Homo sapiens: one gene and its partner. The protein of the gene in region 1 purifies or fractionates together with the protein of each later gene. This does not show direct contact. Each region holds a gene or a part of one and is shown on either strand. Other genes may lie near its edges. The genes, in order: TLR6 and CD36.

Region 1 (4,506 bases):
AAGTACCAAAGTAAATATGTACCTATGCAAGTAGAAAAATTAATAAGATACATACCAAGATATGAACAGTAATTATCTTTGCACAGTAAGATTATAATGGAACTTTATTTTCCTCTTAGTTTTTATCTATATTTTTCAAACTTTTAACATTCAAAATTAAGTTTACTGTACTATTTACTGAATAATTTGCCAAAAATCAATTGCCAATAATATGAATAATGTGCAATCTCACAAAAAATAAAACAGCACGTTAAATCAAAAAAGCACATAACATCTAGATGAAACTCATGATCTTGGATTAGATCTCAGTTAAGACAGACTTGCTATAAAACATATTCAGTAACAGAAGGAGGGGCAGATTCTATGATGGACCAGCCATTAGATGCTATTAAGAAATAAATTGTAATTTTTTATAATGTTATTTGGCTATTTTAGGAAAATGTAATTTTTTTAGAGATAGAGAATAAAGCTTTTAGAAATAGGTTTCCAGAATGCCTGTTATTTTTACTATAAGATATTTAAGCATAAAAAGAGGAAGGGGGTCAAAGGAGGACTCTTGTTTCTTAAAAGATTTTTTAAAAGGCAAGATTTTTTTTTCACCTATCAAATAGGGAAAATTAAAAAATATAATATCCAGGTTGGTAGGTGGAAACTAAAATAAGAACCCTCATTTACTACTTAGGCAGGAATGAAAAATTAGTACAAGCTTTCTAAAGGGTAATTTGGTAATTTACATAAATTTCTTAAAAATATACCTTCCTTTATTTTAGCAATTCCACTACAAGGAATTTTCTAAAGAAATAGTCAAAAATAACACACAGAAGATATGACTATAAGGATACTCATGACATAATGAAATATTGAAAAAATCAGAATGTCTAGTGTAGAAAATGATTAAATCAGTTATGTATAATTAAATAATAGCCTCAAATACTGTACTTTGAAAAAATGATAATGTTAAATGAATACAGTAATAGAAAATTATGGCCGGGCGCAGTGGCTCACGCCTCTCATCCCAGCACTTTGGGAGGCCAAGGCGGGTGGATCACGAGGTCAGGAGATCGAGACCATCCTGGCTAACGGTGAAACCCCGTCTCTACTAAAAAAAAATACAAAAAAATTAGCCGGGCGTGGTGGCGGGCGCCTGTAGTCCCAGCTACTCGGGAGGCTGAGGCAGGAGAATGGCGTGAACCCGGGAGGCGGAGCTTGCAGTGAGCCGAGATCGTGCCGCTGCACTCCAGCCTGGGCGACAGAGCAAGACTCCGTCTCAAAAAAAAAAAAAAAAAATTATATATGTAGTAAGACTCTAATTTTGCAAAATATGATTAAAACCTGACATATACGTAAAAGCTAGAGGACAAACAATGTGATGAAATATACCAAATACTAATAATAGTGGTTCTCTGAATCTCTGAATTATAGATGAATTTAATTTTCTTTCTTATACTTTCAGATATCCCTAAAATGTCTCATTTTGAATGTCCTTTATAATCCAAAAAAGTTATCGTAAGGCAATTTAAGAGTTGTCTTTATAGCTGTGTGAAAATATTTTATATTTAAAGAAACGTGCTTGTTTTATTTGGAATATTAAAATATAAAGATGGAGAACTTTCAGATAATAGTAGATAACTGGCATTCACAGATGAGGACCTACCCTACAGGTCCCCGGCAACCAGACCCACGGTGTCTGGGTTCATGGGACTGAAAATCAGTCACCAGGTGGAAAAGCTGGTCAGCTGTCCTTATGGTATCCTGCCACAAAAACGCAATATTCCTCCAGAGGCGTTCATACCCTGAGGCAGTTCCTAGGGAATACACTAAATGAACAAGATAGTAACTTTTCTATTTATTGGGAAAAAAGGAGGGAAAAATGGGAAGATGAGAGTGGAAGATTAGAGAGTTCACAGTTTTTTAAAGAAAGTAAAAATAAACAGGTAAATGCTCTTGATTTTTTAAATGCATCAAATAAAAAGGGTGAGGAAATAGATGAAATAAGCTACATTTCAGAAAAAAAGGGTAGACAAGACCTATGAAAATTAAAACTACAAGGAAGAAGAGAGCAGAAAAAAAATTAAGTGAAATAAGTGGAGGAAAGATCACATAATCAAGTTAACAAATAGGCAAGAAAAACATTGTTTCATTTGTCAAACTGAAGGTGGAAGGACCTGGAGGAAGGCAATTGCTACACTGTGCCAGATTCAAGCTTGTGAAGGGGCTTGGTCCCGGCCACTTCCTCCATTTAATAAATGTTTATTCAGAGTCTATTTTTCTGCCAGTGCCATGCTACGCACTAGGCACCAGGGATATAAATATGAATAGGACTGACATAATTCCTGCTTTCAAAAAGCTTATGAATTAGGGACAGACACAGACCAGCAAACTGTTACAGTGACAAACGACAAGGGAGATCAAACACACGTCTGCTGTAAAAACATATAATAAATAGGTGCCATATCAGTGGTATATAAAAATTACTGTTAAATGTTACTGAAAACAATAAACTAGAGAAAGACGAAAAGAGAAAATTCGCTGGGCCAAATCAGAAGAAATAAATAACATTAGTTTTGTTCCTTAATTATCACCACAAGCGCTAGTTGTTTTCTATCTTTTCAAGACAGCTGTAAAGACGCTGCTCTTCATCCTGCTCGTGAAATTCAAAGGACATTTGCAACATCTACAAAAAAAACCACTTCAAATCATTTTGCAAAAATTTCAAGGAAACATTACCTATTTCCTATATAATGAATGGTTAGCAAACTTGCTTACTTGAAGCACCTGTGCCATAATGTGAAAAAGCCACAGAAGTCTTTCTACTTACCAAGATCTCTTTTTCAGAAGAAGAGAAAATAACTTGTAAATGAACGGAAATACAATTGAAAATGCTTGACAAACACAAGTTCTTAAAGTTGAGTAAAGCGGTACCTTAGAAACAGATTGGTGCCATCTGTTGGCCCACACTGGAATTACTCCTACGTATATTTTTACCTTTCAAAGGTCCGGAGGTGAGTTAGCAGTTTTTTCTGGGCTACAGACAAAACCAGTAATCCAATTTTCTAATTCGTGTGAGGAAGCAACTTACAAACAATTCAATGTGAAGAAAAATATTTTTCTAAGGTAATATTTCTCTGTAAGAGTTTGCAGCCTGGTTATTACATTTGTCACCTGAGTGGAAAGTTATTTTAAACAGCCTGTTTTCTATTATCACCATATTTAACATTTCAAGAATAATTGCAGTTTCCCTTATCAAGCAATTTTGAGCATTATTTTAGCTGGATGAGATAGTTTAAAATAAAATAAGTATAGTTCCACAATTTGGGTTTTTTTTTAAAAATCAACTTCTAAGGAAAGTTTACTGGTTGATACATATTTATGACTACATATTTAGCCATATGTACGAGCAATCATACCCACATTCTGATCAACATTTGGTGTTATTAAATGGTTTAGATTTTAATTTAGGAATAATAAATAACACTGAAATCCTGCAAGACTAATTTAAAAATCAATTTTCTAAAGACCATTTAGAAGAATTTCAGAATGACATCAACAAAGGCTGATTACCAGAAGTCTCTGGTTAAACAGAGACTTCTGGTGGACAGTAAACCCTTTTCCCCAGACTTCTTGCTTAACTGAGTTCTGCAAAGGACAGAAGGCATGAGTGAAACAATCATTCTATAATTTATCTCACTGTCTGGCACAATCTCATCTTTATTAAAAAAAAAACAACAACAAGTTAAGACCTTACAATTTGGCTAATGACAAAGTTGGACATCTCCGTAAGAATCACTTCTGCTTTCAGGAGGAAGAGAAAGGCTGGCTTCTTGTGATTCATCCTTACTCATCAAACATAACAGGAAGTCTCCTCAGGCCTGGGGAGGCTCAGTAAGGAGTGGATGGATCTCTGCTCCACTGGCAAAAGGAGACAGCCAGAAAGCAGCAGGTATCTGTGACCCTGGAAAACCAGATTTGTGAAACAAGCCAAGGGAAAGGGCTGGCTGTGGCTCTGAGGGAATTTCAAGTAACCGTGGACTAAAGTCTTAAGAAAACAGACAACTATCACTGCAGATCTGGGCACATTGACATGTCTCATTAGGAGATTGCATCACAACACCAATGTTCAGAAACAAGGAGACTATTCTTGTCGAGGCTGTCATAACTCAGAAACGTCTGTAAGGGGATGACAAAAACACAAAAATCAAGTAATAGCGAAGATGGCAATGACAGTTAAGCAAACAAAGAAACAGACAGTACTGGGCCGAACCTCCACTTGGCCACTTACTGTGAGGCTTGGGACAAGTCCCTTAACCTCCATTTATTCATCCACAAAATGGGAGTACTTTTAGGAAAGATAATGAATTTAAAGTGGCTGGAATAGTGACTGACACAGAAGAGAAGTCATAATAGTAAGGAGTTTGGTGCAAATCATATAGTTTTTTTGTATGCTGAGGGGTAAAGATTTCAGGATATACTATGAAGTGAAGAAAATCAAGGTGCAGGCTGGGCACG
Region 2 (3,826 bases), on another chromosome or scaffold:
TAATTCAATACTTCTGTTAATATGATGCATTTAAATGTGACAAGTACTAAGTTTAAGAAATGTTCAATTCTGTTTATGTTTTGTTTGAACCTTTTATCTTATTGCAATGTACCTGATGCCATTAGGTAGCCAGATCATAAAATAAAAACTGCCAGGTGTTAATTAGAAACATCTTGGAATAAGAAAAAAATTAAAAACATTTATCAGAAACTTAGATCTCTACTTAGGGGAAATTTTTTTTTTTCCAATGGGATACATGAATTACTCAGTAGTATAAGTGTTCAGAATGAATAGAAGGAAAGTGTTAAGTGGGTAACTGATATAAGCTAAGTACAAGGCAGGCAGAAGAGAGAAGCAGGGAAGAGGAAAGAAGCAGATGTTTGGATCAGCAAACATTCAAAACATGTAGATGATTAATTTATATTCTTGCCCCTTCCTCCCTTTAATTCTCCCATGGACTGGCGTTAAAGTAGGAAAGAGTTTACTAACTTATACTTTGCTGTCTAAATAAGCTATATATATCTGGAAGTGATAAAAACAATAGTAATAGTTTCCCTGCATCCTCACTTTTTGGTGATGGAAAAACTTTTTTTCCACTCCTGACAGTGACATGTCAAGACAAGCCATTGCTTAAACAAAATAAGTGGTTAATCATGTTCAGTCTTGCCATGAGTTAAATCAACCTTACAATCTTAAAATGATGTGAAATTCTTACTCTAACTAGGAGTGCTTTGCAACTCCCCTCCACATCTCTCTGTAATATTAGAGTGAAATGCTCGTTATTTCTCAATATAAAAAATTGCTGTGATTTCCTTTTAAGTGAATACTTAGAAGTGTTTTTTTCCCTCTACTGACTTTTTCTATAAAAATATGTAACTGTGGACTCTTTAGAAGAAAAAGTACTCCACTAGTAATATTTAGCTGTTAAAAGCAATCATTAGATAGACTCAGTTTGAGGTAGGGGTTACTTTATATTAATAAAAACATTTCATCTCTTTTGGTTTTGATCACTTTATTCTTTTTCAGAAAAAAACTAGTCAAACACACAATTGTTAATTTTATGGAGAAGAAAGCTTGTTCCTCTGATATTTATTAGGGTTCTTCCTAGTTTACATATATGATAAATTATAAATTCTTTAGGTGAATAGGCTGGAGCTAGAAAAAAAAAAAGGAAATAATGGCTTAGGAAGCTGATTTGTTATTTTACCACTTTAAAGTTGGCAAAGTCTTCATTTTCACATTTTGTATTTACATTGTAGAACTGCACTTGAAATATTCATTCTATTTTTGCATTGATAAAGTTAAAAAAGCTGAGTTATCAATATGGAAAATTATTAAAGACTATTTGCAGGGGGAAGGTCATGAAAGCAGTTGCCTGGATTCATTAAGCTTCCATCTTTATAGACACATTTAGGTCATGCCACTGGAATATGGAATTCGATATGCTCGATTTAAAAAGTAAAAAAAAAGTTTCCATCTACTACACAATCAGTTGATGTGTTGTTTTTTTTTTTTTTACCTTTTCATTTATGGTTATCTAATTGTAAGAATAATTATACTGTAATGCTGGATAAGTAGCAGAGATGAAAAAATAGTCCCTTTGGGGATTTATGTAACACAACCATAACCTGTGCAGAAAGGTGAACCAAACCTTAAAGTGGAGCTGATAGTCAGCAGCTATGCACTGGTGTGAACTCACCAGTTACCACAACTAAAGAGTTAATACCTAGCAGAACAGGAGTTTCCAGAGCTGAATTATAACCAGGTCTGTTCTATAGGTTGATGCCTATGTCTTATGAGATGTTAAATGAATACTATTCCTGCTTAAGAGTACCCTAGTAACATACATGCACATTTTACCAGAATACTTACCTTTTACCTTTATATGTGTCGATTATGGCAACTTTACTTATGTTATCTTTTCCATTGAAAACTTTATAAACTCCATCTGCAGTATTGTTGTACTGAAATATATGTATGGGAAAATGTTACTTCTACAAGTCATTTTTTCAAAGTTGTACAATACATAACTCACTTTCACATTTCTCAATCACTGGTTACTCAAATGACTTGAAATACATCTGCAATACATTTTTTTAAATTATTGGCCTTAAAAATTGTGAAAGGTGCCTAGAAATAAGTGCTAGATGCTGTGACAAAGAAGATACATATCAGAAGCTGACATGATGTGAACTCTAGCACTCTGTCATAATTAAGCCAATGAGGGCATTTTGATCACTATTCTTACTATGTTGAGGTGAGGGACATTGAACAAACCTATAAGAACAATGATTTCTAGGGGTATTCTAAATGTTACAGTCATTAATAAGTGGTTACTAAAATGATAATAAGTGGTTACTAAAATGATAAAAATTAGACATCCAAAAGTTAAAGCATTAGCCAAAGAAAGAGCTATGAGTATTGAGTTAAAATCAGAATGAATTTGATTCATTATGGCTTTCTACATTCATTTATAATTGATATATAACCTTGTAATCCTAACAGTATCTAAAAGTAAAACAATGAACTAGAGAACATAATATTCACATATAGTGCCAAATGAAGTCATAGTCCAACTTCCAATTCAGTAGTTAGCTTATCCTATTTGTAATTCAAAACATTAAGCGGTAATCAAGTACACCATCAAGTTCACATTTTCCTTAATCTTCAAGCTGCCATTTCATGACATTATGGACTACTAAAAATTCTTATTTACAAATCCCATTAAAATGAAGTCTATTACCTTATCAGTATTGAGATGTGAACATTAGGCTAACTTTTAAATATAAATTAAAATTGTAAGAGGTCTAGAAAAGGAGGAATGAGGAGTATATTTAAAACAAATAAAAATATGGTATTAAACTTGATTATGTGAATAGGGAAATAAAAGCCAAAAACAGTGCTCAAAGATTTACAGACTAGCTTACCGGCTAATTTAAAAAAAATTGTGTATTTATAAATGAGTAGAAACCTTATTAAATCTATTCTTCAGGTTTAAATTTAATTGTTAAATTCAGATGAATTTCCCAACTAGGAAAGCTGAAGCTATAATGAGAAGTGGACTTTTTAAAAAGTTAGGATATATGTCTCCAGATCAGCAATAAGACTAATGAGCTAAATTATAAAATTATGCCTTGCCAATGCCATTGAATTAATTAAATTAAAATGTAATAATATTGCCATTCATATTTGGTACTTACAGGATAAAACAGACCAACTGTGGTAGTAACAGGGTACGGAACCAAACTCAAAAATGGATCCCTATAGCCCCATAACAGTTCTCTCAAAGTTCTGACTTGGAACATAGAAGATTTTGACTTGTTAATAAGTGAATTGAGGATCATTTGAACAAATTGATTTTGATAGATATGGGATGCAGCCTACAAAAACAAAGTCACTGTTTAAGACAAGAATACAATATTAGATTTTAACAAATAAATGGATTAAATGCTAATATTGAGCTTAATACAAAACTTTTTAAAGCTTATCTTTAAAATTACTGCCAGATCCTGCCAAAACTCAAAATGCAATTCGTCTAATTCCTAGATGATTACATTTCTTTGCCTCAGTGCCAGCCACAAGAAGACGACATTCCAAGTTAAGCTCTATTTATTTAACGATACACTTAAAGTGGTCTTCTCAAATATCTAATGCATTAAGGCATACGGGGCTTAAAACCTAGATGATGGTTTGATAGGTGCAGCAAAGCACCATGGCACATGTATACCTATGTAACAATCCTGCACATTCAGCACATGTATCCCAGAACTTAAAAAAAAAAAAAGCCATAAGTCTGGTCCCAAAGGCGCTGGAGCCACACGTGACA

What was found.
Region 2: the proteins of TLR6 (region 1) and CD36 purify together in Homo sapiens (co-immunoprecipitation; one study listed by IntAct). This does not show direct contact.

Annotation. Positions count from the first base shown.
Region 1 is NC_000004.12:38,853,943-38,858,448, forward strand, and holds the start of TLR6 (toll-like receptor 6 precursor), read right to left. Parts: upstream 2,876-4,506; 5' UTR 2,819-2,875; intron 1-2,818. UniProt on the Homo sapiens protein: Participates in the innate immune response to Gram-positive bacteria and fungi. Specifically recognizes diacylated and, to a lesser extent, triacylated lipopeptides.
Region 2 is NC_000007.14:80,662,544-80,666,369, reverse strand, and holds part of CD36 (platelet glycoprotein 4), read right to left. Parts: intron 3,398-3,826; exon of another isoform or gene 3,381-3,397; coding exon 3,201-3,380; intron 1,965-3,200; coding exon 1,873-1,964; intron 1-1,872.